2 separate regions of the Homo sapiens genome follow, and region 2 is linked to region 1. Evidence: fine-mapped expression QTL. A gene starts in region 1. The other region holds a variant in brackets. All regions are shown on one strand. Distances are from middle to middle.

The links. PIP is the estimated chance that this variant, and not a neighbour inherited with it, causes the effect. A credible set is the group of variants that fine-mapping cannot tell apart.
Region 2: its variant is the best candidate, but not a certain one, in a credible set for the expression of RAET1E in nasal epithelium (TOPMed, PIP 0.60).

What each region holds. Positions count from the first base shown.
Region 1 is chr6:149,893,489-149,905,120 of GRCh38, forward strand. RAET1E (retinoic acid early transcript 1E) reads right to left here and starts at 4,625. Exons shown (of 6, transcript NM_001394057.1): 1 at 4,533-4,625; 2 at 2,358-2,544. RAET1E-LRP11 (RAET1E-LRP11 readthrough) reads right to left here and starts at 2,642. Exons shown (of 15, transcript NR_182438.1): 1 at 2,358-2,642. The region is part of intron 1 of RAET1E-AS1 (RAET1E antisense RNA 1); the gene reads left to right. RefSeq lists a silencer at 4,885-5,179.
Region 2 is chr6:149,917,838-149,929,469 of GRCh38, forward strand. RAET1G (retinoic acid early transcript 1G) reads right to left here and starts at 5,284. Exons shown (of 5, transcript NM_001001788.4): 1 at 5,089-5,284; 2 at 1,716-1,979; 3 at 1,206-1,487; 4 at 337-547. The coding sequence starts at 5,173. It overlaps RAET1E-AS1 (RAET1E antisense RNA 1), which reads left to right. Exons shown (of 2, transcript NR_045126.1): 2 at 1,350-1,671. RefSeq lists enhancers at 7,480-8,015, 8,016-8,550 and a silencer at 8,481-8,560. The variant C/T (reference allele first, on the strand shown) is at 6,934.

The sequences.
Region 1 (11,632 bases):
TTGGCTGTCTGTTTGTCTGTTATTGTTGCATAGGAATGCTTGTGATTTTTGCACATTGATTTTGTATCCTGAGACTTTGCTGAAGTTGCTTGTCAGCTTAAGGAGATTTTGGGCTGAGATGATGGAGTTTTCTAAATATACAATCATGTCATCTGCAAACAGAGACAATTTGACTTCCTCTTCTCTTGTTTGAATGTACTTTATTGCTTTCTCTTGCCTGATTGCCCTGGCCAGAAGTTCCAATACTATGTTGAATAGGAGTGGTGAGAGAGGGCATCCTTGTCTTGTGCTGATTTTCAAAGGGAACGCTTCCAGTTTTTGCCCATTCAGTATGATATTGGCTGTGGGTTTGTCATAAATAGCTCTCATTATTTTCGGATATGTTCCATCAATACCTAGTTTATTGAGAGTTTTTAGCATGAAGTGGTGTTGAATTTTATCAAAGTTCTTTTCTGCATCTATTGAGATAATCATGTGGTTTTTGTCATCGGTTCTGTTTATGTGATGGATTACGTTTATTGACTTGTGTATGTTGAACCAGCCTTGCATCCCAGGTATGAAGCCAACTTGATCGTGGTGGATAAGCTTTTTGATGTAATGCTGGGTTCGGTTTGCCAGGATTTTTGCATCAATGTTCATTAGGGATATTGGCCTGAAATTTTATTTTTTTGTTGTGTCTCTGCCAGGTTTTGGTATCAGGATGATGCTGGCCTCATAAAATGAGTTAGGGAGGATTCCCTCTTTTTCTATTGTTTGGAATAGTTTCAGAACTCCTCTTCTTGAGGAGTATCTTTGTGATGTTCTCTGTATTTCCTGAATTTGAATGTTGGCCTGCCTTGCTAGGTTGGGGAAGTTTTCCTGGATAATAACCTGAAGAGTGTTTTCCAACTTGGTTCTATTCTCACTGTCACTTTCAGGTACACCAATCAAATGTAGATTTGGTCTTTTCACATAGTACCACATTTCTTGGAGGCTTTGTTCATTCCTTTTTATTCTTTTTTCTCTAATCTTGTCTTCTCTCTTTATTTCATTAAGTTGATCTTCAATCACTGATATCCTTTCTTCCGCTTGATTGATTTGGCTATTGATACTTGAGTATTCTTCACAAAGTTCTCATGCTGTTTTTTAGCTCCATCAGGTCATTTATGTTCCTCTCTACATTGGTTATTCTAATTAGCAATTCGACTAACCTTTTTTCAAGGTTCTTATCTTCCTAGCATTTGTTAGAACATGCTCCTTTAGCTTGGAGTTGTTTGTTATTATTCACCTTCTGAAGGCTACTTCTGTTAGTTCGTGAAACTCATTTTCTGTCCAGTTTTGTTCCATTGCTGGCGAGGAGTTGTGATCATTTGGAGGAGGAGAGGCGTTCTTGTTTTTGGAATTTTCAGGCTTTGCGCACTGGTTTTTTCCTATCTTTGTGGATTTATCCACCTTTGGTCTTTAATGTTGGTGACCTTCAGATGGGGTCTTTGAGGGGACGTGCTAATCCTTTCTGTTTGTTTCTTTTCCTTCTAACCATCAGGCCCCTCTGCTGCCAGTCTGCTGGAGTTTGCCGGTGGTCCACTCCCAACCCTGTTTACCTGGGTATCACCAGCGGAGGCTGCAGAGCAGCTAAGATTGCTGCCTGTTCCTTCCTCTGGAAGCTTTGACCCAGTGGGGCACCTGCCAGATGCCAGCCAGAGCTCTCCTGTATGAGGTGTCTGTCGGCCCCTACTGGGAGGTGTCTCCCAGTCAGTATACGTGGGTGTCAGGCACCCACTTGAGGAGGCAGTCTGACCCTTAGCAGAGCTCGAATGCTGTGCTGGGAGGTCTGCTGCCCTCTTCAGAGCCATCAGGCGGGGACATTTAAGTCTGCTATAAGCCCCTGATTGGGGCTGCTGCCTTGTTTACCAACATGCCCTGACCAGAGAGGAGAAATCTGGCAGTCTGGCCATAGCAGCCTTGCTGAGCTGCAGTGGGCTCCGCCCAGTTCCAACTTCCCAGCAGTTTTGTTTACACTGTGACCTTAAAACCATTTCCTCAAGCCTCAGCAACGGCAGAGGTCCTTCCAGATGAGTTTTGTAATAGACTCCAGCAGTCCTACTGGGGCCAAGACCTCAAGGAAAGCCAAGTCTATCATTGGGAAAAGTCTTAGGGCTCTAAGTTTTGAATTCTGAAAATTTTTCTTAGAACAAAATTTTGTGTCATTTTCAAATAAAGCACAAGTTTTCCTCATAAAACTTAGTATCTGTAGACCCCCTTCCCACCTCACTTTTACAGCTGTCCCATTTGATCATCAGACCCTGCTACCTTAGCCAGTTCAGGCTGCTACAACAGAATAGACAAGGTGGCTGAAACACCAAGCATTTATTTCTTACCTTCCTGGAAGATGGGAAGTCCAAGATCAAGGTGTCAGCAGGTCCGGTATCTGGCGAGGGCCCTCTCTTCCTCACCAGATGGCTGTCTTCCTGTTGTATCCTCACACAGTGGAGAGCAGAGACAGACAGCAAGCTCTCCTATCACTTCTTAATCCCACATGGCTCCACTCACATGAGTTATGACTTCCTAAATAGCATCACCTTGAGAATTAGGATTTCTGCATATGAATTTGGAAGGCAGGCAAACATGCGGCCTGTAACACCACCCATATCCGTTCCACATCTAGGTTCCCTCTGTGTGCCGGGCAGTATGCCAGTTAATTCAAGTGCATGTCAGACCCAGAGGGTGACATCCTGTGACTCAGATGCTAGGGCCCTTATGATGCCTGGTAAGGTAAGTGGGTCTTTACCACTGTCCTTTCTTAACTAGATGGAACAGACTTCAAAGAAAGTAACCATGGACTATCGGCAGGGCTCTATCTCTGGGGCTGGGGGATAAGGGGTTGTCTGCTCAGAGGACAGTGGGTCAAGCGTTTGAAGGAGCCGAGGAATGCACATTTTTTACATGTCCCCTATGTGGTTCTCTGTCTGCTAAGGTTAAAGAACCTCAATTTTGAGGGTGCACTTCCACCTCTTGGTCTGGAGAAGGGGTCTCAAATCTGTCCTGAGTGGAGCCTGTTCTGTACACATCCAGGCCCTGAGAGTACACAGAGAGGAACTCACTGCTACCGCCCTGCCAATACTGCTGCTGTGGGGACACCAGCGGGGGTGGGCCAAGAACAGAGTGTATGTGTGTGTTTGTGTGTGTGTGTGTGTGTGTGCATGGGTGCTTGTGTGTGTGTGCGTGCATATGTGTGATATGACCACTGAGTAGCTCCTTAGCAGGGCCAATATTTTCTACAAGTCTGATGACTCACAGGAAGGAGCACACCAGGCCTATACTTGGGTCCTGACATCTGGGATGCCAACCTAACACTGAAGAAAAAGAAAGAGCTGCAGACAGGCTGGGAAAAATATACAGAAAGGGGAAAGGGGCCCTTCCACCTTTGTTGCCCTCTGTGGTCCTGAATCTCAGCTTGGCCTGAGCCAACCTGAAGATGGGAAGGAATAGCCATTTTCCAACTGCAAAATGTCAGCTTCAGGCAATGGTTTCAAAACTGAAGTAATGGTTACATATGAAGTAGATTTTTGTTTGTTTTGTTTTTTGAGACCAGGTCTTGCTCTGTCATCCAGGTGGAGTGCAGTGGCATGAGCACGGCTCACTGCAGCCTTGAACTCCCAGGCTCAATCAGTCCTTCCACTTCAGCCTCCAGAATAGCTGGCACTACAGGCATGAGCCACCACACCCAGCTAATTTTTAAATTTTTGGTGTGGAGATGGGGTCTCATCACGTTGCCCAGGCTGATCTCGAACTCCTGGGCTCAAACAATCCTCCCCCCTCAGCCTCCCAAAGTGTTGGGATTACAGGAGTGAGCCACCACACCCGGCTGAAATGGAATTTTAATTGAAGTAAGAAGCGGGTGATAAGGAAAGTGAAACCAATAATTTCACATAGTCCCTGGAAGCCCGTTGCTATAAAGAACTTTCAGCCTGAAGTCCAAAGAGAGACGAAAATTTTAAAATGAATTGGACTGCAGTTTTCAATCCCTGAAAATGAGTCACAGCCTTTTTGTGGCAGTGTGCCCTGGGCTTCTAACCGTCCTCTCCCTGCCCCAGCTGCCTTGAGGTCCCGGCCAATGGTTTCAACACTCAGGCTAGGAATGCCAAGGCCCGGCAGAGCGAGGCTGTGGAAGCCTTGGCATAAGCGGAAGGGAGGATCTGAGGGAGAATGGGACAAGAGAAGTCGGAAAGAAGGAGTTAGGGCAGGAGAACAAGGAGAAATCCCTGTCCCCCAAATTGGAGAGAGGGGCGATTGGGACTCCAGACTGGAAGGAGGCACGGATCCCTGAGTGCTTGGTGTGGAGGCAGAGGACCCGCAGAGCCACCCCGTCCTCCCTGCCTTATCCAGCGTCCCCGCCGCCACACCCCCAGCATCTCCCCCAACCCCACTTTTACTTCATTATCTGCCCCTGGTTCTCTCACCACTCGAGCCCCTGCTTTCCTCCTTCACTCCCAAACATGCACACGTTCCCTCTGCACGGGTGTTTGGAACACCAGCCATCCCCCACCCCCTACCTTGTGCCAGCAGGAGATGTTTGTCCTTCTGCCGTCTCTAGGATGGAGAGGCCTGAGGTGACTGCTTCCTCAGAGTCTCTGTGCAAACTCTCTGAGGAGCAGAAACCAGTTCAGTCTCTCTGGGTGTGGAGAGGCCGGCCTAGCAGAACACCCGTCCACCATGCAAACCGGGTGGGGCCACCTGTCAACTGTCACGTGTGAGTGATTCTAGGACAGGGTAACTCGTCCAGAATTGGATCCAATTCAGTACTGGATTCACCATCAGTAGAAGGACCAAGACCAGACTCAAGTCCCAGCCACGAAATTCTAGAAAGGATTTAATGTAATTTTAGCAGTTGTTGGAGACCAGCATGTGATGGCATACATATGTTTTCCTTGATATGTAGGTGGGGGCCCCCACCTTTTTTCAGGGTTTAGGCTTCTGCAGGTCCTGGCATAGCTGTGACAGCGGCCCTACCTCATTTCTGGTGGGTGCTGGCTCCCTCTATTGCTTGGTTTCTGTGCAAACACTGCATTATCGTCCTGCCCTCTTGAGACCTGGAGCTCCTGCCCCCTGAGCTCGTGTTCGCACTGTGTGTCACTGAACCTCGCTGTTTTCTTCTTGCAACTCCATTCCCCTCTGCAACTGGAAGACCAGCACTTCTCCTGAGTCTTCCTTAAAAGACACCCTGCCCACTTCCTTACAAAGCCCCCACCAAAGTGACACCAGCTACTTGTGAATGTAGCCAACTTTACTGAAGATTTAGAGGTTATGTTATAAGGCTGTGAATAATTTAAAAAAAAAATCACCTATTTGCTCGACCTCTTTCTTATCTCTTCTTTGGACTAGAAATAAAATATCTATGATTTGACCACACTGTCATCTAGTACTCGACCCTGGTTCTAGGCCACCGTCCTCCTGGCCAGGGTGATTGCAGTGCTGCCCTACTTGGTTCTCCGTGCCTGTCCCCACCTCCCAAATGGCTACAGCGCAGCCAGAGTGATCTTCAGAACCTCATCACTCACGCCCCCCTCTGCTCCAATTCTCCAAAAGTGCCCTTTTTCTCTCAGTAAAACCAAAGTCACTACAGATGCCTAGAGAGCCCTGCACAGTCTGGCCAGCTGTCCATTATGCCCCCTCACTCGCTCAGTTCCGACCTCCACCCTCGGCCTCCTTGCTGGTCTTCAGAGCCCTGCAGATGTCCCCGTGCCTTGGGACTTTGCATTGCCCTCCCTTCAGCATGGACTGCCCTTCAGGCATCTGCCCGGCTCACTCCCACTCCTGCTCCCAGGTGGCACACCCTTCCACGCCTGGTTCTCCCTGCCCCTCGCATTTGGAACCCTTGTATTTCTTTCTTTCTTTCTTTTTTTAAAATTGTGGTATGATTCATGTAACGTGATTTTTCATCTTAACCACTGTTAAATGTAAAGGCCTCTATTTCATAATGGGAGACCTCTGCCTGCCCAGGCCATCCTGGACCTTCTTCACCTGAACTTGTTCCCCTAAAGCAATGACCACTTTAAAACATACCTTAGTAAGCCGCGCACAGTGGCTTACACCTGTAATCCCAGCATTTTGGGAGGTCAGGGAGGCTGGATCACCTGAGGTTGAGTTTGAGACCAGCCTGGCCAACATGTTGAAACCCTGTCTCTACTAAAAATAAGAGAATTAGCCGGGTGTGGTGGCCAGTGCCTGTAATCCCATCTACTCAGCTTATTGAGTCAGGAGAATCACTTGAAGCCAGGAGGCGGAGGTTGCAGTGAGCCGAGATCACGCCACTGCTTTGCAGCCTGGGCAACAGAATGAGACTCTATCCCTATAAACAAACAATCAAACAAACCTTATTAACTTTTAATTGTGGTTGCAACAAATTACTGCAAATTTAGTGCCTTAAAACAACATACATTCATTCTTTTACCATTCTGGAGCTCAGAAGTCTGAATAGTCTCACGGAGCTATCATCACTGTGCTGTCAGGGCTGTGTTCCTTTGGGAGGCTCTCGGGGAGAACCTGTCTCCTCCTTGCCTTTTCCAGCTGCTCAACTGCCCACGTCCATGGCTCAGGACCCCATTTCCTCATCTTCAAAGGCAGCTCCACCAGGCTGAGTCCTGGTTTACATGAGAACACTACCCCTCCATGGCTGGTTTTCCCAGGGCAGCTGATTAGCCACCTCAGCTCCATCCACAGCTTTCACCGCCCTTTCCATGTACCCCAACACAGAGGTTCCAGGGACTGGATCTGCCATCCTGAGGATTGGAGAGGGAATTCTTCTGCCCAACACACATACCATATAATTTACATATCTATCCATTTAAAATTTCTATCTCTTACTAGAATGCCATTTCTGTGAAGACAAAAACCTCATACAAGGCACAGAAAACAGCTCCCCAGGGGTGAAGGGGCTCAGATGGGCCCCCTGGCTCAGGGAACAAGGAGAGGTGTCAGGGCAGCCTCCCTGGGTCTCCAGCCTTCACAGCCGGTGCCTCCCAGGCAGGTTCCAGCCACAGCAGCAGCAAAAGAGATGTGGTGGGCAGCATCAGGCATTGGCGAGATTCCTGACACAGTTCAGTCGAAAAGAAACTTCCTAAACTGAGCTCACCTCAAGGAAGCTGGAGATAAATGCCACCTTACCCAATGGGTACATGAAATACAAATACAAATCCTTTTCCAGGTTGTGCAGGTTACAACTGGCCCAATTCTATGCCTGGTCCCCTGCCCTGTCCTGCTGTGACTTGCCAGGGTGGGGTGCTCATTGGCCTCCAGGCTCCACTCACTTTTCTGACCGCACCCAGTTTCCACCTCCAAGTCACCCCCCAGACTGCTTCTCCTTTTGCTGTTTTTTCTCAGCCCAGCAGAAATTCTAATATTCGCCAGGCTTGGCCCTGCTCAGGGCACCGGAGAAGGAGCCTCTGAGGAAAATCTTGGCACAAGGAGCAGCTCTCCCACCTGGATTTCCAGCACCCTCTGTTTTCTGGGAACTCCTGAATTTCTCTGGCCATTGGCACAGGGGCTCTGCCACGCAGTTCCCCTGGCGGCTGGCCCCTGACATCTGGCAAAGAGTTAGGAATGCAGGTGTTTCTGGCAAATATGTAGGGCCTATGAGATAAGAAAGTGGGGGAAGCAAGATCACGTAGGTTCTCTGTGAGAGAGGCCGCATGCCCAGCAGGACAGAACATCCCTGGCTGACAAGGGCCATCTTCCCCTGTCCTTATCTCTGCCTGGGCTCCAGCTCCGTCCTGCCTGACAGAGGCCGTGGAGCAGAGCACTGGGCTGCTGGTCAATGTCCTGGTCTTTAGATAGACCAGTCTCCGGATGGGGTCACAGTGGGAGAGCAGTGGGCCTGGGAGGTGCAGGGTTAGTGCAGGGCAGGGCTGCCTTGAATCTGCAGGTGCGGGGCCACCAGGCTGGACCTATCTGTATGCTCAGCACAGGAGGTTGCAGTATTGCCTGCCCTCAACCTCCTTTTCCTATTTCTGCTGCTAGAGGGCACTGGGGACTGGGGTCAGGCTGGGGGTCTTGCCATCCCCTCCTGATCTCCTCCACTCCCTGTCCACAGCTCCTGATTTCCCTGCCTGGGCTGCCCCCACCAGAAGTCTCCAGGCCTAAAATCCAGTAGGAACAGGCAGCCTAGCCTGTCCCCAGGGGTTTCTTTAGCACTTGCAGGAGTCAATAAGGCTTCAGGTAGGAAGGCCTGATGCCTTCCTCATCCACAGACGCCTAACAGGTGTTTCTGGAAATGTATCCTGTGGCAGCCAAAGAGGCTGGACTCCTCAGTGTGTTTCCAAACAGAGCCAAACACAGAGTTCATCGGTTGGAGGAGCCCAATCAGCTGCTCATTAGTGTGCCTTTGACAAGCCTTTGTACGGCGGGGAGGAAAAATGATTTTCATGAAAAAAACAAACAAACAGGAGTTTATTATCTATCTATCTATCTATCTATCTATCTATCTATCTATCTATCTATCTATCTATCTATCTATCGTCTCTTGTATATACACAGGAAACACCTGGAGAAAACAAGTAATCCTTAAAGTGCTGGCTTAGAGCTCCAGCATCTTCAACAGAAAACAATAAACGTCTAGAGAAGTGGCAGATCATGGGAAGGCCAATCTATGGCATCAGAGAAGCTTGTGGTGCCTCTGCTGCTGTCCCTAGGCCTGACAAGAGTCTGAAATTGTCTTTGGTGATCAACCTTTGTCCTTTCTGGTAGAGAAGGGAGGATACAATCAAAAGTGGCTCAATAATAACTGGAAAATAAATGGAAAAGAAAGATGTTCATTTCATCCAGGTTCTTGAATTCATTGACATACGGTTGTACATAGTATTCCCTTATAATCCTTTTTGTTTCTGTAAAGTTGGTAGGGATGTTTCTTCTTTCATTCCTGGTATTAGTCATTTGAGTTTTATCCCTCCACCATTTACCTAGTCATTCTAGGTTAAGGTTTGACAATTTGGTTGATCTTTTCAAAGAACCAACTTTTGGTTTTATTGAGTTTGCCAATGTTTTTCTATTCTTTATTTCATTTATTTACACTCCAATTTTTATTTCCTTCCATTTGTTATTTGGGGCTTAGGTCGCTTTGCTCTTTGAGTTTCTTAAAGTGAAATATCAAGTTATTAATTTGACATAATCCTTTCTTTGTCCTGTTCTTTCTCAGTATACTGGCATTTACAGCAGTAAGTTTTCCTTTAAGTGCTGCTTTATCTGCTTCTTATAAATCATAGTATGCTGTGTATTTGTTTCCATTCATCTCAAAGTATTTTCTAATTTTCCTTGTGAGTTTCCCTTTCGTTGATTGGTTCTTAGAATGTTTATAAAATTGTTTGTCTTAAAGATGATTCTGCCTGATATTATTAATAGCAATTTCAGTTGTCTTTGTTTACTATGGATGTGTTTTATCTTTTCCATATGTCTACTTTTAAACTACTTGTATCTTGGGATCTACATTGTATCTTTAGATCATTTTTTAAATGCATTCTGAGAATCTTTGCTTTTTCTTTTGAATGTTTATCACTTTGACATGTAAGGGAATTACTGCTAAGGTGGAACAGAATTTACGTCTGCCACCTTTTTCTTAGTTTTCCATATGCACTATGTCATTTTCTTCATCTTTTCCACCACTATTGCTTTGTTTTGTGTTAAACAGATATTTTCTACTGCATCATTTTACTTCCTTTATTGTCTCTTTTTCATTTTTTATTTAAAAAAGTTATTTTGTTAGTCATTTCAGGGGATTCCAATTAATATCTTAATTTACCACAACCTAGATCATATTAAAACCAACTTAATTTTAACAGGATGCAAAATCTCTGCTCCAATATTGCTCTGCTTCTTCCCCCATCTTTGTGGTATAAAAATGATATATACATAAATTATATGGCATGTGTTTTGCAAAGAATAATCACCTGCCACCCCCACCCACTCCCGCCAATCCCAGAGGATGCCGGTGTGAATCCCTGGAACCCCCCACTGGGTTATATGGAAAAGGGAGTGAAGGCTACAGATGGAGTTGAGGTTGCTCATCATCTGCCCCGGAAACGGGGTGATTTTCTGGATTTCCCTGGGGTTCCAATGTAATCACAGGATCTTTATAGAGGAAGAGGCAGACGGAAGAGGGAGAACCAGATGAGGGGCACAGTGAGGACTTAATCTGATGGAACTGCCTTTGAAGATGGGGAAATGGGCCCTGAGCCATGGATGTGGGCAGTTGGAGAAGCTGGAAAAGGGGAGAAGGAGACAGGTTCTCCCCGAGAGTCTCCTGAAATAACAGCCCTGACAACACAGTGATGTTAGCCCATTGAGATCCATTCCAACTTCAGATCTCTAGAATGGTAAGAGAACAAATTTGTGTTATTTTAAGCCACTAAATTTGTAATTTCTTACAATAGCAATCAAAAGCTAACACTGTCTGTTTTAAAGTGGTCATTGCTTTAGGAGGAAAAAGTTCAGGTTAAGAAGGTTCAGGATTGCCTGAGCAGGCACAGATACTGCCATTTTAAATAGATGCCTGTACATTTGAAAACGGTTGAAATGGCTCCTGGCTGTGGCAGGGCAGCAGGCTGGGGCCATGGCAGGCCAAGTGCAGGCCCAAATCAGACTGCAGGAGCTTCACATACACTCTGGGCAGGCACCTGCCTCTCAGTAGCTCACTGAGAGATGAGGGCACCCAGCAGGGGTCCCCAAGGGAAGGCACAAAGAGGGAGCCAGCCTGAGATTAAGGGGCTGTGAAAACAATGCTTTTCCAGAAGTCCTAGCTGGTTACCTTCACAGCTGCTTGCAAAACAGAGAAATTCTACATCCACTCACAGCAGCCATGTCCACAGGGTGCTCCAGACGGCCAGGAAGTTAAAGTCACGCCACCTGGCTGTGGAGATCAATGAGGCTGAAGTGCAACAGGAGCAGCAGGAATCCCTCCTGGGAGATCTCCAGGATGACATTCCCCCAGGTGACAGCCTACCAGGCCCGTGGAAAGCCCTGGCTAGTAACCTCACAGCTGCAGTGTGGCAAATCAAACAGAGCTGGAGTTGTCTGGTAGATCCTTGGAGCAGGTGCTGCTGCCCCACATGGACACCTTCCTGCAAGTGCATTTCGGCCCCATCTGAAAGAGCTTAAAGGAAAGCTTGCATGGCTTTTCCCCGGACATAACAAATCTGTTTCTTGATGTGGAGGCCAACACCAGGCCATCACGATGGTCCAGGATAGTGCTGTGGCCAGGGCTGACTGCCAGGAGCTTGGTGGTAAATTTGAAGCCAAGATCCAGGAAAATGCTCAGAGAGTGGGCCAGCTGTGAAAGGATGTGGAGGACTGACGGCATGCTCGGTGCTCTTCCCTGTACACTCCCTCTCTGAGGTCCAGGCTGATGTGGACACCAAATTGAAGAGGCCAAACCCAGGAGGCCCCAAGGACTAATGGCAGCTGCGTGTTGATGACGGCAGGGGCTGGGGCAAGGCCTGAACTGGAGAGCCTGCAGGCCAGGCTGGCCAACTGCAGAGGAACCTCTGGGTGCTGCACATGGACTCAGCCTGCAGGGAGGAGGAATTGCAAAACACCCCTCAGGGATATGAGGGCTACCCTGACCCGGCACGTGGATGAGATGAAGGAGCTGTGCTCCGAATTGGAC
Region 2 (11,632 bases), 24 kb after region 1:
AATTCCTGCTGCCTGCAGGCCACACACCCTTCCTGAACAGAAACCTGCTCTGAATCAGGCCTGAACTTGCTAAACCCTCTCAAGCTCAACAGACCCTGAGCCTTGGTATGGCACCACTGCGCCTTTCCCTCTGGCCTTTGATGGTGAGAATCCATCAGAACTCAGGGCAGAGCTGCCCAGGTCATTTCCAACAAGCAACACAAGGTCTCATTCACCTGTCTCATGTTAGGATGAGAAGGTCCCAGCCATAGGGAGTGGGACTCTGGGAATTCTCCATCCCTGTCCTCCCTCCTCACCCACCTGCCCTTTGCTCCACTCCCAATTCTGCCCCCATACCTGTCACTCCAAAGGACTCTCCTCAGCAGCCAGGTAGGATGAAGCAGGGGAGGATGAGGAGGAGGCTGCAGGGACTGAGGGTGGTGGCCATGGCTTTGGGTCAGACTGTGCCTGGAGCATATGAGGAGACACATGATGAGGAGGCAGCAAAGGATGAGGGTGGTGGCCGTGGCCCTGGGTTGGGCTGTGCCTGAGGACATGGTGGGTGGTGCTGAAATGGAAGCACAAGAGTGACAACCCTTGTCCAGGCCCCAAATCTGAGGAGATGCCTCCTCAGCTCCTGCTGACCCAGGTCATCCTGGAAGGCAGAGGTTTTGTCCCCTCTGCTATGGGGCAGCCCCTGGGAGAGTTCCTGGGGTAGGAAGGGAGAGGGGGTGTCCCTTGGCCTCAGGGAGCTCACAGAGCTGCTGAGGGAAGCAAGGTGACAGCAAAGCCCACCCTCCTGCTGTGGCGGAAGAGGAGGTGATGCTCCAGGGTGCGGGAGGGGAGGGTCACGAGGCTGGCCTTGGAGGAGGTTTTGATGGATTTCCAGAAACAGACCAGAGGAGGAAAGGAAAAGTGATTCTCAAGAGGGAACACTAAGGAGAAAGGCCTGAAAATAGTGACACCTGCAGTTTCGAGGCTGGTGAGAAATCCACAGTGTGGGGAACAGAAGCAAGTGCAGTGAGGAAGAGGAGTCAGGAGGGAGAAGGAAGAGGAGGGTGGGAGAGCACAGGCACGCCAGCACCCCCAGGAGGAGCACCCCACGAGGAGGTCATTTTAACATAAACGTGTACACTGGGATGATTGAAGCTGAACTCAAGAATTAGTTTCTTGAGATCCCCATTTCTGATCTCATTGGAGATCCCCATTTCTTTTTCTCCTGTTACCTCCTGCACTTGGCTCCAGGGTGCTGTCCATGCCCATCAAGAAGTCCTCAAGCCATCCTGTGCAGTCTCCCATTGAGATGTAATGGAAGGACATGGTCATATCCTTGTCATTCTCCCACTTTTCTTTCATCTTTCTGGCTCCAGGATGAACCGTTGTCCACATTCTGTTTTCTGAGTCAAAGAGGAGGAAGATCTGTCCATCGAAACTGAGCTGCCAAGATCCACTGCCGTGTCCTTCGGCTTTCTGCTCACAAGACATCCTGGCCTGCAGGGTGAGGGGTTCTGCCCCCATCAAAGAGAGATCAGCTCTGGCCTTGACAGATATTGAGCCCCCATCCTCTTCCACTTGCAATTTCCTGGTCTTACTTGCTCTGCCACATCCTGGCCTTGCCTCTAGACGTCTTGCGGGGTGAGATGACCTTCCTATTTGTATTTTTACATGAAAACTATAAATGCCTCTAACCTACCACTGTATCTGCTCCCTGCTGTCCTGGGCCATCTGAAACTTACCCTTGGGTATGTAATTCTCCAGCTGAATGTCAAGCAGTTGCTCTGTAAGTATGTCCACCACCTCTCTCAGTACTGGGTTCTGTGCTTTCCAGGCCGTTGTGACATTTAGTTTCTTCCCCAGGGGACTGACGGGTGTGACTGTCTTGCTGCCACAGTCATAGTGAAGAAAAGTCTTTTCATCCACCTGGCCTTGAACCGCACACCACCGTGGTCCAGGTCTGAACTTAGGGATGACGGTGATGTCATAGCAAAGAGAGTGAGGGTCTGTGGAGAAAGGCAGGTGAGGGGTGGGTGGGGAGGAAAAGACCCCTAGATACCCCTCCTCCACACTGTGACAATAAGAGGAAGCCTCTGGAGGGCTGGGCTGGCCCAGCAAGGAGTGCCTCCTCCAGAACTGTGGTGTCCACAAGATTAAGGCGAGTGCTCCCCACTTCCATGAGGGCAAAGAGGAGGAGGAGGTCCCTGCCTGCTGAGAAACCACATGTCCCCAGACATGTCCCACTGCCCCTCTGTCCACATCGGTCAACACAGGACCTTGCTAGAGAGGTGCCAGGAGTGCTAGAGGAGGAAGGGCCTGGATGACAGAGGATCTTCAGCAGTAGCCCACGTGGACTGTGGGAGGTGGGACAGGGTGTGGGAGCTGCACCTGAGGATACTGGTGCATGGTGGGACGGAGTGAGGATGGAACCCAGTTGGATAAAGAAGAGTTAATTATCATGGTCACAGGATTTAACACGTTGGCAAAGCCCCTGGTGGTGGTGCTCATCTACTATGAGGATGCCTTCCTGAAACCTTGGACAAAGGGATGGTCCACACAGCAAGAAATAGAAAAATCTGAAAATCTAAGGCAGGCAGTAGACGGAGGGATCACAGGCTCAGAGAAGTGCCCAGGCTGGAGGGGTCTGAGTGTGAAAATCCAGAACAATGTCCATCTGCTGTGCTCATGGGAAGCCTGGAGGACTCCTGTTTACCTGGCATATAAAGAAGGCCCCATGAGAAGGCACCAGAATGGGATGAAGCTCAGGGATGCCTATTGCTGAAGGCCAGGGTTGGGGGTAGGAGATGCTCTTCCTGAAATGGGCTCCCAGTAGTAATGGGATGAAAAATCCCGAAATAACAGATTCCAGGTGGAGGTTGTCAACTGTCAGGAACAAGGAGGGTGCAATGATGGAAATGATTAGAGAAGTCACAATGCCAGCTGGAGACCTCAGTCATACAAAGCTATGCCCATGGCTCATAGAACAAAGGGGTCCAAGATCCAGAAGAGATGGAAACCCAACCTGAATAGTGCTGGATTTAAATAATTACAAGAAACAGAGATAAAACAAATGATGGATGACCAGGAGGCTGAAAGTAGCCAGTCCTTCAAGAACAAGGCTGCTTTGCCTAATTTGCAGAATAAAGCCACTTCTCAGACCGTGAACCCATGACTAGAAGAAGACACCAGTTTCCAGTGAGGAAGGACCCTTTAACCCCGCAACAAGTGCAATGATTCTTTGTGGGCTTCTCCAAACGTATTTATGGCCACTAGAGTTTGCTATGAAGGGCAATTTTGTAAACATGTAAAGGTGTGCAGGGAATATATTCTCCATTGTAACTACTCAGCTCTGCTGTTGAAGCGCAAAGGCAGCCACAGGCAATCCATGAATGAGCGAGGCTGGACCTGCCTTAAGTGCCCAATGACCCAAGACCCCCTAAGATCCTAGAGGTGCATGTGGTTCCAATGTCTAATTGGAGAATCACAACATAGATTCCATGTGAATGTTCAGAGGCAAGGCAACGCCACTCACAGCAAGGAAATCTCAACATTAAAAAGTGTCTCCTGTAGAGTACTGGGCCTTGGCAGAGATGGGGCCTTTAGCCATGGAAGGGCCGTGACCATCCAGCCTCAGAGCTGCCCATTACGGGTGGGCTCCTCACCCTCTAGGTCATTAGGAAGAGAGGTCTGGCAGTGAGAAGACACAGGTGGTTCTCCTGGGATGGGCAGAAGTAGGGCCACAGGGAACCGGGAAGCTGCACAAGCAGTTGGCCCCGATTCCCAGGACACCACGTGGCTGCACCCCCTTACCCTCAGCTTACACCTCAGGTTTCAGGGAAGGTCACTGATGGCCCCCGTGGACCATAGATGCCACTCAGCAGCAAAGGAGGGGAGAGTAGACCCTGAACCATGGGACCCCCACTCCCATCACATCCACACCACCCAGAAGCCACAGGCAAGGTAGGACCACCTTCTACTCTCCAACTGACACCTGAGACACCACTTGGAGATGACACCATAGGGGATGGGGTACTATTTGCTGGTACACTGTAATCCCCTCATCTAGGGTCAGCAACCTAGGACAGGGTCCAAATCTGGTCCCCCCTATTTGAAGGTTGCCATTGCCTGCTGTTGCTCTGCAAAGGGACAGGACTGGACACTGAGACGGAGAACCCAAGGCCTGCAAAGATCACAGGGCATCCTTCCTCCCTTTCTAGAAAGGGTTTGCTGACCCCTGTCTACACACTGACTATTCTCTATGATGCTGGCGCCCCAGTAGGAAGAACAGGCAGGTCTGGGCCCCAAGGGCAGAAGTGGGTGCCTCTACTCACCAGAGTTCCCAGGGTCATCCTGGAGGAAATGGTGCTTCCCATCCCCCCTGCACAGGTTCTGTGGGGAGCTTGGGGTGTGTTTGCTGGGGTGTGTCCTCAGGCAAGAGGCAGAAGGTGTCACGTGGTGTAAGAGGTCGCGAGGGCCCCTTCATGGATGGGGAGACCTCTGGGGTGACCAGCTGGGCTGAGGTGGGGAGTAAGAGGATGTTACCTGGGTGGTGGCAGTGGATGGTGAGGGGAGGGTGGGAAGTGTCTGCTGAGCCGCTGGGTGCAGGTGAGTGTCTACAGGAAAGTGCAGGGAAAAATTCAAGGGCACGCAGCCCTGGGGGTGCTGGAAGGTTTGTGTGGTTGAGAGCGGGTGAGAACAGAGCAGGCTGGTGGCTGGTGGGAGTGTCTGTGATTGTGTCCCTGTGCAACCCCACTTCACCCCTGTCCTGACCCCAGCTCGGATTCTGGGGGCTCTGGTTTCTCCTTCCCGAGGGCGGGTGGGACTGCCGGGCTGCACTAGGGATCCCCGCTCCACGTCGCCCTCTGCAGCCCTCTGGCCCCTCCACTCTCCGGGGGTTCCTTTCCAGCCTCCTCTCTGACCAGCTCCTCCCCTCGGAGGATAAGTAGCCTCTGGGAACGGACCCGGCGGGAAGGAGACGCGGAGGGAAACTGAGCGGGGGCGCAGTCCGGGGTGATCGCACGGGTCCTTCCAGAAGCCTCCCCTCCTCTGAAGCCCACAGTCCACAGCCCCCCACGGTTGGCCTCCGCCCCGCTTAGGCTCCATCCCCGAACTCACCGGCCAGCCCGGTCCTGCACCAGCTGGACAGCAGGAGCAGAAGCGGGAGGCGTAGAAGGAACGCGGGGCTGGCGGCCGCTGCCATTGGGGAGTTGGATCGCAGGGGACAGCAGAAGCGAAGCCCAGCCCGTGGATCACCTGGCGGCTCGCAGGCTGTCTGAATGCAGCCCGTCTGAATGCAGCCCTAAACTCCAGTAAGCCCTAAACTCTAGCACTCCTTCTGCCCCGCCCCTCGGAGGAAACACACCCCCTTTGCTGAGCCGCTAGCCAATCAGGTGTCTCTCAGCCAAGTTGCTCATCCAAGTCTACCCCACTTTCTACTGCAGCGCTCGCGCACTTCCCCCTGCTTCAGCCAGTCAGACTTTGCTGGCTGCCTGCCCGGGACCAGTCCTGCCAAAGGCTTCTTTCCATGACCCCCTCATGTAATCATCACCGCAATTTTTTCATTTTGTATTAATCCAATGTGGATACCGATGCACAGAAAGGTGAAGAAAATGCACAGAAGTGTTCAGCCGCGACAGGGTCTCCCTGTCCTCGCCTGTACCTGCGACACCCGCCTTCCCTCTCCCTGCGTTGCAGAGTGCTCCCAACCCACCGTCCTGTGCGCAGATCCAAGCCCAGTCCCATCCCCGCGGCCTCATCCCAAATCCCGAGTGGACGTGGTTATAGCCTGGGCTAGGTTTGTTTGTTTGGTTGGTTGGTTTTTCTTTCTTTTCTTTTTTTTCTTCGTGACAGAGTCTCGCTCTGCCGCCCAGGCTGGAGTGCAGCGGCGCGATCTGGGTTCGCTGCAACCTCTGCCTCGCGAATTCAAACGATTCTCCTGCTTCAGCCTCCCAAGTAGCTGGGACCACAGGTGCGCGCCACCAAGCCCGGTTAAGTTTTGTATTTCAGTGGGGACGGGGTTTCACCATGTTGCCCAGGCTGGCTTTGGACTCCTGGGCTCAAGTGATCGGCCCGACACGGCCTCTCAAAGTGCTGAGATCACAAGGGTGAGCCACCACGCCTGGCCCGGGGCTAGATTTTATTACAGAAGCACCAGGTCTTCAGAAGCTTCAAAGAAGATATTGTACACTAAACAATTGGTTAAGATAGTAAATTTTATGTTCTACTTTTTTACCAAAATTAAACAGCTTTAAAAATTATCTTAAAAATATGTGTCTTGCTGGGATCTGCCCAATTCGGATTGGCAAAAAGACTCTGCTCATTAAAATCTTTGCATTTTAATGCAAAGCATTGAAAACCTTGTCTCTAAAATCACAACCTGTGAGGCACCTTGCTGATTTAGAAAGCACATCAGAGAGATTGACCCTGAGCTCCCCTTAGAACAGTGCCCCACCAGGTGTGGGGATGGCCCAGGGGACTCAGCAGAGCAGGTTCAAATGAAAGCTCCCCATAGCTACTAACTGCCAGCGCTTGCTTTGGGCCTGTTCCCCCTGGGCAAGGACCAGCCATCCTTCCAAGCCGCGCACAAATACCCCCTCCCATGTGTGTCCCTCATCTTCCCACATGAAGGAACACCCTCCTGCTCCCTGAGGCCTGGATCCACAGTGATGGAGCGTATCCGGATCTCCCTGTGTGACAAATGCTCACACATTTCTTTGCTTCTCTACTAGAAGCATGAGGTCTTTGAGACTATACTAGATCTGTGTACAGCTTTTGAGGGAAAAAAGCCCTAGTGGCCTACTGTTGCTCAATTGGAATGTGATCAATTGTGTTTCCCATGGGAGCAGGAGGCAAGGGAGGGGTCTGTGCGTGCGTGGAGCTCACTTTGCAGTACACCCATCTGTGGCCAACCATTGATGCCTGGATCCATGGCTGCACCCACACCTCTGCTCAGTCCCTGGA[C/T]GGTCCCTGCGGCCATCCTCAAAAGGAAACCCCAATTGTATCCTTGTCTTAATTATCATGAGGGCATCTGGAAGTGGTGGCAGAAGCCAGAGACAGGTGAGGGTCCCAGTGGTTCCTGGCAGCTGTGAAGGGCTTAGCTTAGGGTGAGGACTGGACAGAGCCCCTGGGTCCCATTCTGCCCCCAGCCACTCAGGCAATATCCTCTTTTCCCCTTCTCTCTCAGCCTCTTCTCACCCTAGGGCTGTACCCAAAGCTCTGAATGAGACTGTCCCTGCCCCGCCCCATCCACTCCTGGTCCAGCTCAGCAGTGACCTTGGAACTCCAGGAGCAGCTCAGTACCCCTGTCTCCGAGTCAGCTCTGCTCCAGGCAGGGCCAGAATCTGGAGTGTGCAGGAGGCCGGATGGCAGGGGCATTGCCCCAGGACTGAGCCGTATTCTGAGGGTTCCCAGAGACCTGACCTCCTACTTGTATACAGTCTTTTCAGTCAGCGTCTGCCTTAAAGGCTGTGACCCAGGCACCTTCCCTGGGAATTAACTCCAGCATTGTCCTCTGGGTCGACACAGTCCTTGGCAGCCTCTCCTTCCTGGGGTTACACCCAGTTCCTCTGCTCTTCTCCAGTGGATGGAATCTCCTTCTCCTTGACACACAGCATCTGGAGCCACCAATCTGCTGCCCCACTCAAATGTGAGGACCGCACATGCCTGAGCTCCTGCTGTCTGCACACCACGCACCGTGGGGGTTCCTTATGACCAGAGACACAGTCTGAAACAGACCTGAATTTGCTAAACCCTCTAGAGCTCGACAGGACCTAAGCCTTGATATGGTTCTGTGTGCTCCTCCCAGGGCGCCCGCTGTCCCCGAGCTCCGGGCCTGAGTGCTGGCTGGCGGAGACCCACAGTGGGTGCCCCGCTCCCGGACGATGCCCCTGGGCTTCCAGATCCAGAGCCTCGGGACGAAACTGTTTCAGGAAGACCCGGAAGGACTCGCCGGTCGCGGCAAGGGACAGGCGGTTCCTGAGACAGGAGGAGCCAGGAAATGCGGGGCCTGGTGGGGTGAGGAGCACGGGGTTCCTCCTTCATCCTCGCGGGGACTTTGCCACCGGCTCAGTGTGGAGGCCTCACCGTCCCGCCCGGATCCGTGGGGCTCCGACAGTGTGGCCCCTGCGAGGACCCCCCCCATCCTCCTCGCCCTGGGGCTGCTGCGGGAGGGCGCCCGGGCAGCACTAGGTCCTGAGTGTCCAGGGTCCGGCAGGGGCTTCCCGTTGTCGCCTCCCTGACCCCGCCGCTTGCGGTCCAGGGCTGCTGGTTTCTCCGCTGGTCTGGGAGGCCCTAGCATGGACGTCGTGAGGCGGAGAAAACCTTGGGATGGGTGGAAAAGAAGGATTGGAGGGAGGGCGGCAGAAAGGGAGAGGAAGGAAACAGGGCCGGAGAACAATGAGAAACCCCCACCACGAAAATGGGGAGAGGGGGACACGCGCACAGCCCCCACACTCCACCGACTCTCCGTCTCCTGCTCTCTGCCCAGTAAGGAACACAGGCCCCACCCCCTCCACCCTCACTGTGTTTGGGATCAGCCATTTCAGCGGGGTGAGGCGTCCCCTTGTGGGTGCGATTGGCATTTCCCTGAGGGCTGTGAACACTGAACACCTTTTCCTGGGCTCACTGCGATTTGCATTCTTCTTCTGATGCCAGCGGGCAAGGGGAGGTCCCCAAACGCCGGTGGGACCTCGACTCCAGCCAGTGTCCAGATTCTTGATATTGCCGGGGAAATTAATTCAAGGACCAGTAGGAAATAGAGAAAGGACGGAGATTTATTGTAAAAGGCAAAGTACACAGTCAAGTAAAGGGAGTGCAGGGGAACTCGAGAGAGAAGCAGGTGCAAGTTTGGGGCTGCCACCTTTCTGGGTTTCTTTAACCAAGGAGTGGAATATTCATGAAAATTCCTGGAAGAAGGTAGAGATTTCTCAGAACTGTGGTGCCCCGCATTTTTACACTAAATATAAGTGTTCTCAGAACTGCTCAGGAGCTGGCTGGTGTGTGTTTAGTATGTTAATCAGCATGTAATGAGGTCCTAGGTGAAACCTAGGTCAAATGCAGGGCCTTGTTGGGTCCAGTCATTCTTAGCCAGCTTGGTCCACATGCTGTTTTTCAGCATCTTATCAGCCCAGAGCCTCTGCACATATTTCAACAGATTCCTTTTGCTAGTCACCTGAAACTGCTGCCCAAAATTTTCTATTCTTTTGAGACCACCGTGTAGTATACCTGTCTTACTTTGGAGAAATGTCTATTCAAATTCCTTGCATATATTTAAATTGGGTTATTTCACTTTATAATGTTGAGTTGCAACATTATATATTATATATAATATATAATTGCAATTATATTTTGTTGCAATATTATATATTCAGAATACCAGTCCCTTACCTGATATATGATTTTTATTTTATTTTTTAAAATTTATTTATTTATTTATTTTTTAATTTTTAAATAATTTTTAAAAATTATACTTTAAGTTCTAGGGTACATGTGCACAACGTGCAGGTTTGTTACGTAGGTATACTTGTGCCATGTTCGGTTGCTGCACCCATCAACTCGTCATTTACATTAGGTATTTCTCCTAATGCTATCCCTCCCCCAGCCCCTCACCTCCCAATAGGGCCCAGTGTGTGATGTTCCCCGCCCTGTGTCCATGTGTTCTCATTGTTCAACTCCCACCTATGAGTGAGAACATGTGGTGTTTGGTTTTCTGTCCTTGTGATAGTTTGCTTAGAATGATCGTTTCCAGCTTAATCCATGTCCCTGCAAAGGACATGAACTCATCCTTTTTTATGGCTGCATAGTAGTCTGTGTTGTATATGTGCCACATTTTCTTAATCCAGTCTATCATTGATGGACAACTCTTTGCTATTGTGAATAGTGCCACAATAAACATATATGTGCATGTGTCTTTACAGTAGCATGATTTATAATCCTTTGGGTATATACCCAGTAATGGGATTGCTGGGTCAAATGGTATTTCTAATTCTAGATCCTTGAGGAATCACCACACTGTCTTCCACAATGGTTTAACTAATTTACACTCCCACCAACAGTGTGAAAGCGTTCCTCTTTCTCCACATCCTCTCCAGCATCTGTTGTTTCCTGACTTTTTAATGATTACCATTCTAACTGGTGTGAGATGGTATCTCATTGCGGTTTTCATATGCATTTCTCTGATGGCCAGTGATGATGACCATTTTTTCGTATGTCTGTTGGCGGCATAAATGTCTTCTTTTGAGAAGTGTCTGTTCATATCCTTTGCCCACTTTTTGATGGGGTTGTTTTTTTTTTCTTGTAAATTTGTTTAAGTTCTCTGTAGATTCTGGATGTTAGCCCTTTGTCAGATGGGTAGATTGCAAAGATTTTCTCCTATTCTGTAGGTTGCCTGTTCACTCTGATGATAGTTTCTTTTGCTGTGCAGAAGCTCTTCAGTTTAATCAGATCCCATTTGTGTACTTTGCCTTTTACTGCCATTGCTTTTAGTGTTTTAGTCATGAAGTCTTTGCCCATGCCTATGTCCTGAATGGTATTGCCTAGGTTTTCTTCTAGGGTTTTTATGGTGTTAGGTCTAACATTTAAGTCTTTAATCCATCTTGAGTTAATTTTTGTATAAGGTATAAGGAAGGGATCCAGTTTCAGCTTTCTACCTATGACCAGCCAGTTTTCTCAGCACCATTTATTAAATAGGGAATCCTTTCCCCATTGCTTGTTTTTGTCAGATCAAAGACCAGATGGTTGTAGTTGTGTAGTGTTATTTCTGAGGCCCCTGTTCTGTTCCATTGGTCTATATATCTGTTTTGGTACCAGTACCATGCTGTTTGGTTACTGTAGCCTTGTAGTATAGTTTGAAGTCAGGTAGAGTGATGCCTCCAGCTTTGTTCTTTTGGCTTAGGATTGTCTTGGCTCTGCAGGCTTTCTTTTGGTTCCATATGAAGTTTAAAGTAGTTTTTCCAATTCTGTGAAGAAAGTCAGTGGTAGCTTGATGGGGATAGCATTGAATCTATAAATTACCTTGGGGAGTATGGCCATTTTCACAATTTCCTATCTATGAGTATGGAATGTTCTTCCATTTGTTTGTGTCCTCTTTTATTTAGTTGAGCAGTGGTTCATAGTTCTCCTTGAAGAGGTCCTTCACATCCCTTGTAAGTTGGATTCCTAGGTATTTTATTCTGTTTGTAGCAATTGTGAATGGGAGTTCACTCATGATTTGGCTCTCTGTTTGTCTATTATTGGTGTAAAGGAATGCTTGTGATTTTTGCATGTTTATTTTGTATCCTGAGACTTTGCTGAAGTTGCTTGTCAACTTTCCGCCAACAACCACACAGTCTGCTCCCACACACTCTCTACCACACAAGCCCTCCAGCACCCCCAGGGTTCTCTGCCCTTGATCTTTCCCCTGCACTTTGCTGCAGACACTCACCTGCACCCAGGGGCTCACCAGACATTTTTCACCCCTCTCCTCACCATTCACTGCCACCACCCAAGTCACATCCTTTAGTTCCCCATCTCAGCCTGGCACTTTTACCCACACAAACCTCACTCACCTCTCCATCCATGAAGGGTCCTCACCACTTTCTCCAGCAACCAGGGGGACCCAGGACCCACTTACCAGGAATCCAGAGTCTTTTTCAGACCCACAGAGGATGATTCTTCTGTGTAG